Regions from separate parts of the Homo sapiens genome. Here region 2 is linked to region 1. Evidence: fine-mapped expression QTL. A gene starts in region 1. The other region holds a variant in brackets. All regions are shown on one strand. Distances are between the middles of the regions. Region 1 holds the start of CDC26 (cell division cycle 26). Region 2 overlaps FKBP15 (FKBP prolyl isomerase family member 15).

What was found. PIP is the estimated chance that this variant, and not a neighbour inherited with it, causes the effect.
Region 2: its variant is the best candidate, but not a certain one, in a credible set for the expression of CDC26 in whole blood (INTERVAL, PIP 0.56).

What each region holds. Positions count from the first base shown.
Region 1 is chr9:113,273,953-113,276,819 of GRCh38, reverse strand. CDC26 (cell division cycle 26) reads left to right here and starts at 1,248. Exons shown (of 4, transcript NM_139286.4): 1 at 1,248-1,438. PRPF4 (pre-mRNA splicing tri-snRNP complex factor PRPF4) reads right to left here and starts at 1,162. Exons shown (of 14, transcript NM_001244926.2): 1 at 1,050-1,162; 2 at 95-272. The coding sequence starts at 1,076. RefSeq lists enhancers at 1,175-1,514, 1,282-2,137.
Region 2 is chr9:113,204,962-113,207,940 of GRCh38, reverse strand. FKBP15 (FKBP prolyl isomerase family member 15) reads left to right here. Exons shown (of 28, transcript NM_015258.2): 3 at 645-729; 4 at 1,363-1,432. Among named protein-coding and RNA genes, the nearest start is that of FKBP15, 15 kb to the left of the region's middle. The variant A/G (reference allele first, on the strand shown) is at 1,359.

The sequences.
Region 1 (2,867 bases):
GTAATTTTTTGACATTATAAAACTGTGGTATTTAAGTTTAGAAAGGTATTCATTACACAAAGAGGTAAAGATGGGCTCACAATTTGCATCTTACCAGAGGTTATATTAATATTTCCAGCTTCGATCCCTGCTTTAAGTCCGTCTTTCCCCAAAATCCCAGACTCTCCTTTGGCCAGACGCTCCCTCTCCTTCTCTTCCAAACTTCCATAATAGATGTGTGGTTTCTTCACGACCGGAGCAACTAAGTCGTCGGGTGCTTTAGTTTTGGTTGCCTGCTAAATCAAAGATCTGCATTAAACTAAGGTTTAATCTTGGCAATTTACCGGACTTCACCAGAGGATGAAGCTCACCCTGAGTTTCACAGTCCTGTTTCCTCTGTAATTGAAAGGACAAATTGGACACTACTTAAGACGCTCTTCATTGATTTGAGGAGGTGAAGGTAGGGTGAGGGTGTTTCAGTCCCTCACTTTGGTTGATGGGATTAATAAAACTAGTGAGGTTCTCTCGGGTATTTTCCTATGAAAGGTTTGCTCTGAAATCTGTTTACTTCATTCCGTTGGAAGTGTTCAATCTCGTGTTTTATGCTTCCCGGATTACTGCTTATCACTGGGGAAATACTAAGGATAGATGAAATAACCAACGCGGTGCTAAAGGATAACAAGTTACAACATTACAAGTGTATACATTTCAAACGTTCCTAGACGTGAGGTAGTAGGAGTTAGTAGGTCTCATTAAAATTCTGAGATCTGCCAAAGGCATAAACCTTGGCCAAGACACTTCCCTATTTCAGAGCACCGTTACTGGATGAGTCGGAAGAGATGCTTGCCCTTTGGGGCTGTAGTGGGAGAGGTGCAAATAAGCTACAGTCCACGAAAGCGCTTAGGGATCAGGAAAACGGTGGTCCGCTGTGTAGGACACCGCTGAGTCCCGCAGCCTTCCTCCTCAGCCCTCCACCGCCTTCTCCCGCTCCTTAACGGCCCCTTCCCGCAGAGATCCCCTTCCCCCTTAGCGCTCCCTGCCAGAGTGAGCTGGGATCCCGGGCTCTGTACCGTGGAAGAGGCTCGCGAGGAAGCCATGCTGGGCTCTGGAGCCGCGAGGCCCCAGCGAAACCCGAACACTCCCTTTCAGACCGTCCACCGCGCGCCCAGCAGAGGGGAAGTGCGTCACTGACAGGAAGTGCGTCACTGACAAGACGTGGGCCAAGAGGGGTCACCGCCCCCGGAGCGGCGCGGAGCATGATGGAAGTCGTAGTAGGAAATGGCGTCGTGGCATTGAGGGGCATCCCTCCTAGAACCTCCAGGAAAAGCTCGCGGAAGACGAGGTTCTGCGGAGAGAGAGGCTCCAAGCAGTCTGGGAAGTGTAGTCCAGTTGGCTTAGCAGTAGTTTCGTTGGGGGGGAGCCGAGGTTCCGGGAAGGGGCTAGGCCGGCTTGAAAAGAGGTAGGTGAGTCGACTCGCGCGGCTCGGGGCTGAACTCTGGAGCGAGTCAAGGGCTTCCGGGGTCCGCTGTGCCCCCCGGGCGTACGGGGGCGTTTACGTCTTCTTGGAGCCGAGGACCATGTTACCATAGAAACCCTTGCCTGGGCTCCGAGGTACAGGCCTGGAGCTAGGGGACGAGGACTGTTCTCCTCCATGGTCCGGAAGTCTTCCCAGGCTCCCCCTCTGAGCTTGATGGCTCGGCGGTGGATTTGGGCTGCGGCGGGAGATTAAGCTAGAAGAGCCCGCTAGTGCCAAAGTCAAATAAAGACCCGGCGGAGGAGCTTCGGCCTGATTTTGTTGATTTGTCTTCAGCCTGGTCTTTGTATCAGATTGAGAGTAAGATGATGGATAGGAAGGTGTCAGGTAACTCTGTACGTCTCTCTGCCCTGCTGGATGCTGGGGCATTAGAGACGAACAGGATAAGGTTTTTATCCCCACATGGGCGGTGGGAGATCCTCAAAATATTGACGTTTCCCTAGCTGGCCAGATCCTCATGCAACCCCCTAGAACAATTACAGCAATAATAGATGTTATTTATTGAACATTTATTAAATGCCAAATAATATTCCAAGAGCTTACTCTGTATTACGTTATTGACTTCCTACAACAGCAGAGTAGGATACAGATGAGGGAACTAAGGTCTAGTGAGAAATGAAACGAATTGTTCAGGATCGGTGGTGTAGTGGGATTAAAACCTGTGCCCTTTAACCTCTACAGCCAGCACTTTTAACTGTTAATCTATACTGCTCCCTAGTGGCCAGTTTTTTGCAGTTTGCAGAAAAGGTAAAATGTATAGATTTTTTTTTCCCCCTTTTAGGTATCCCTATCCCTCTCTTTCCCTCTTTGGAACTTTGGCTTTCTCTACCATTTGTCTGCATTGGAATCTGGTAGAAGATAATGCCTGATTTAGTACAAAGGAATTTGAAATGTAATGTGCCAGTGTTTTGTGTTGATAATATCACCTGTAGTATCCTAAGCTTCATGGGAGAAGGAACTATTTCTTCCTTTGTATACTTCACAGTCCTTAGTTTCATCCTAGATACGTGTAATAATTTGTATCTGTACATACTTTCAAGGAGTTTTCACTTCCATCATTTTCACTTAATGCTTATCATGTTGACCTTTATAATTTTTATAGGAGGCTAAAATTATTAACCAAACTGAACAGCTTGCTTCGATGACTTCTTTATGTGTGAAATAGGAATCATTTTGTCAACTTCACAGGGTTTTTGTGTTAAAATAAGAATGTAAAGAATGGGAATGGAAAAACAGCACGGTGCTCAAGAATGATCTCACCTTCTAGTCAACAAACATTTACTGACTGTTTTTATAGATACACTCTAGGGGATGCTGTGGAGAATATACAAATGATGCCATCAACAGATATTAA
Region 2 (2,979 bases), 69 kb after region 1:
TACTGGAAGGAGAAAATAAAATAGATGGACTATCACTTTTTAGACAGTACTCCTTGTCTAGCCAAAGACTTATTTGGGGTGTGTGGGTTGGGAGTTGGAGTCATGGGTTTCAGACCTAGGCACTATCATGGTATAATTGTGTGAGGCACTTGGGTGATTAGAACCTCAGTTTCTTCACCCCCAGACTAGATCATAGGGCTGCTTTGTGGATCAAATAAGGATAATCATAAAAGCATTACAACACTGACTGTAAATTATAAAGATCAATTTTGAAGCTAGTTCAGTGGTTAAAAATTAGTTTAAGGCCAGGTACAGTAGCTCACGCCTGTAATTCCAGCACTTTGGGAGGCTGAGGCAGGTGGATCACGAGGTCAGGAGTTCAAGACCAGCCTGTCCAACATGGTGAAACCCCATCTCTACTAAAAATACAAAAATTAGCCGGATGTGGTGGCACGCAACTGGAATCCCAGCTACTCATGAGGCTGAGGCAGGAGAATGGCTTGAACCCGGGAGGTGGAGGTTGCAGTGAACCGAGATCACGCCACTGCACTCCAGCCTGGGTGACAAAGTGAAACTCCGTCTTTAAAAAAAATTAGTTTAAAGCAAGAAGTGAATGACAACTTTGTTTTCTTGTTCATCTTCAGGAAATCAGGCAACACCAAAAACAGCACCAGCCACCATGAGCACTCCCACAATACTGGTCGCAACAGCAGTCCATGCATATCGATAGTAAGTCGCTGAGAAGGAACACCCTCTGAAGTTTGGTGGAAGGGCGTGCAGTTAAGCTACTTTTTCTCGAAAAACCTCTGTTTGTTGCAAAACGGTTATTTAGCCCTTCCACGGACAAAATATCAGTAGAACTTTTAACATCTGAATTGGAGATTTCTGTGGTAAAACTTGAAAAGCCATTATCTTGTCTACTGTCTTTAGGGAGTGCTTGTACCCTCAACAGCTGTCAAATGCTCAAAGAAAGCCTCTCCACTGAGATAGCATGAATGATAGATATTTATATTTAAAGAGTAAGGGAATAGTATATGAGCTTTAAATTATAAACTGCTGGGCCGGGTGCGGTGGCGCACTCCTGTAATCCCAGCACTTTGGGAGGCCGAGGCAGAAGAATTGCTTGAACCTGGGAGGCAGAGGTTGCAGTGAGCCAAGATCATGTCACTGCACTCCAGCCTGGTGACAGAGCGAGACTCTGTCTCAAAAAAAAAAAAAAAAAAAAAAATTTTAAACCGCTCACCTGTGTCCCTGCCTAGAGGCTGAATGACTGTTGTTCCCACTTCTGTATGACAGAAAAGAAAGCTGGTTCTGCAGAATTTAGGGAAGTATTAATACTTGTTGTTTCTCTTCCTTTT[A/G]TAGCACAAATGGTCAATATGTAAAGCAGGGCAAATTTGGTGCTGCAGTTCTGGGGAACCACACAGCCAGAGAGGTGAGAGTGCTCCCACATCTCATGTATATTCAGATGTCCCAAATAATACCAATGAGCTGGCTTTTATCTGGCTTGCCCGATGTCTTGTTTATCAGAAGATAAGGATGATTATTTGTATTGAATGTTAATTTATAACATCAAGCATATAGTAAATGATCACATTTTGCTTACTATTGTGCGTTAAAACAAATCCAACCATTCAAAATTGTTAAATTTGACCTTTGTGATATGATCCTAGCTTAAGAATTTGGGCATTTTTTTGTTTGTTTGTTGTTCAATTGTGGGGTGCGTGTGTACACACACATACACAAATACACACATATATATACACATACATATGTATATATAAGATAAAATTTGCCATTTAACCATTTTTAAGTGCATAATCCAGTGCCATTAATTGCATTCACAGTATTGATTGAGCAACCATCACTACTATCCATTTCCCAAACAGAAAGTGTAACCATTAAGCAATAACTCTACTTCTTCCTTTTTCCCAGCTGCCCATAAGGTCAAATCTCTTCTTGTTTTTATGAATTTGCCCTTTCTAGGTACCTAATATAGGTGGAATCATAACAGTATTTGTCTTTGGTGACTGATGTATTTCATTTCACATAATGTCCTGAAGGTTCACCCATGTTATAGCATGCATCAGTATTTCATTCCTTTTCATGGCTGAAAAATATTTCATTGTAGGTATATACCACATTTTGTTTATTCATTCATCAGTTGATGGACACTGGGTTGTTTATACCTTTTGTCTATTGGGAATAGACAAAAAAAGTATGTATCGTGAAGACTGACATAAAAGTATATGGTCAAGTTCCTATTTTGGCTGTATACTAAGAGTGGAAATTGCTGACTCGTATGGTAATTTTATGTACCACTTTTTGAGAAACTGCCAAACTGTTTTCCACAGCAGCCACACCATTTCACATTCCCACAAGCAATGTATGAGGGTTTCAGTTTCTTCACATCCTTGCCAGCATTTTGTTATTATTATTATTTTTAAATTCTTGCCATTCTAGTAGGTGTGGAATGGTACTTTATTGTGGTTTTAATGTGCATTTTACCCAATGTCTAATGTTGAGTATCTTTTCATTTGCTTATTGACCATTCATGTATTTTCTGTGGAGAGATGTCTACTCAAGCCCTTTGTCCATTTTAAAAATTGGATTGTTTGTCTTTTTGTTGTGGAGTTGTAGTAGTCTTTTAATATATTCTGAGTATTAAACCCTTATTTGCAGATATTTTATAGATTATCTTTTCACTTTCTTGATAATGTCCTTTGATGTACAAAAGTTTTTAATTTTGGTGAAGTCCATATTATCAAGTTTTTTCTTTTGTTACTTGTACTTTTGGTGTTTTATCTGAGAATCCATTACCAAAACCAAGGTCATGACGATTCACCTCTACGTTTTCTTCTAAGAGTTTTATGATTTTATCCCTCATGTTGTTTTATATACAAGTTGGGCCTACGGTAAAAAATTACTTGACATGTGAAGAGGTGGGAAAATGTAACTAATAATCAAGGGAACAAATAAACT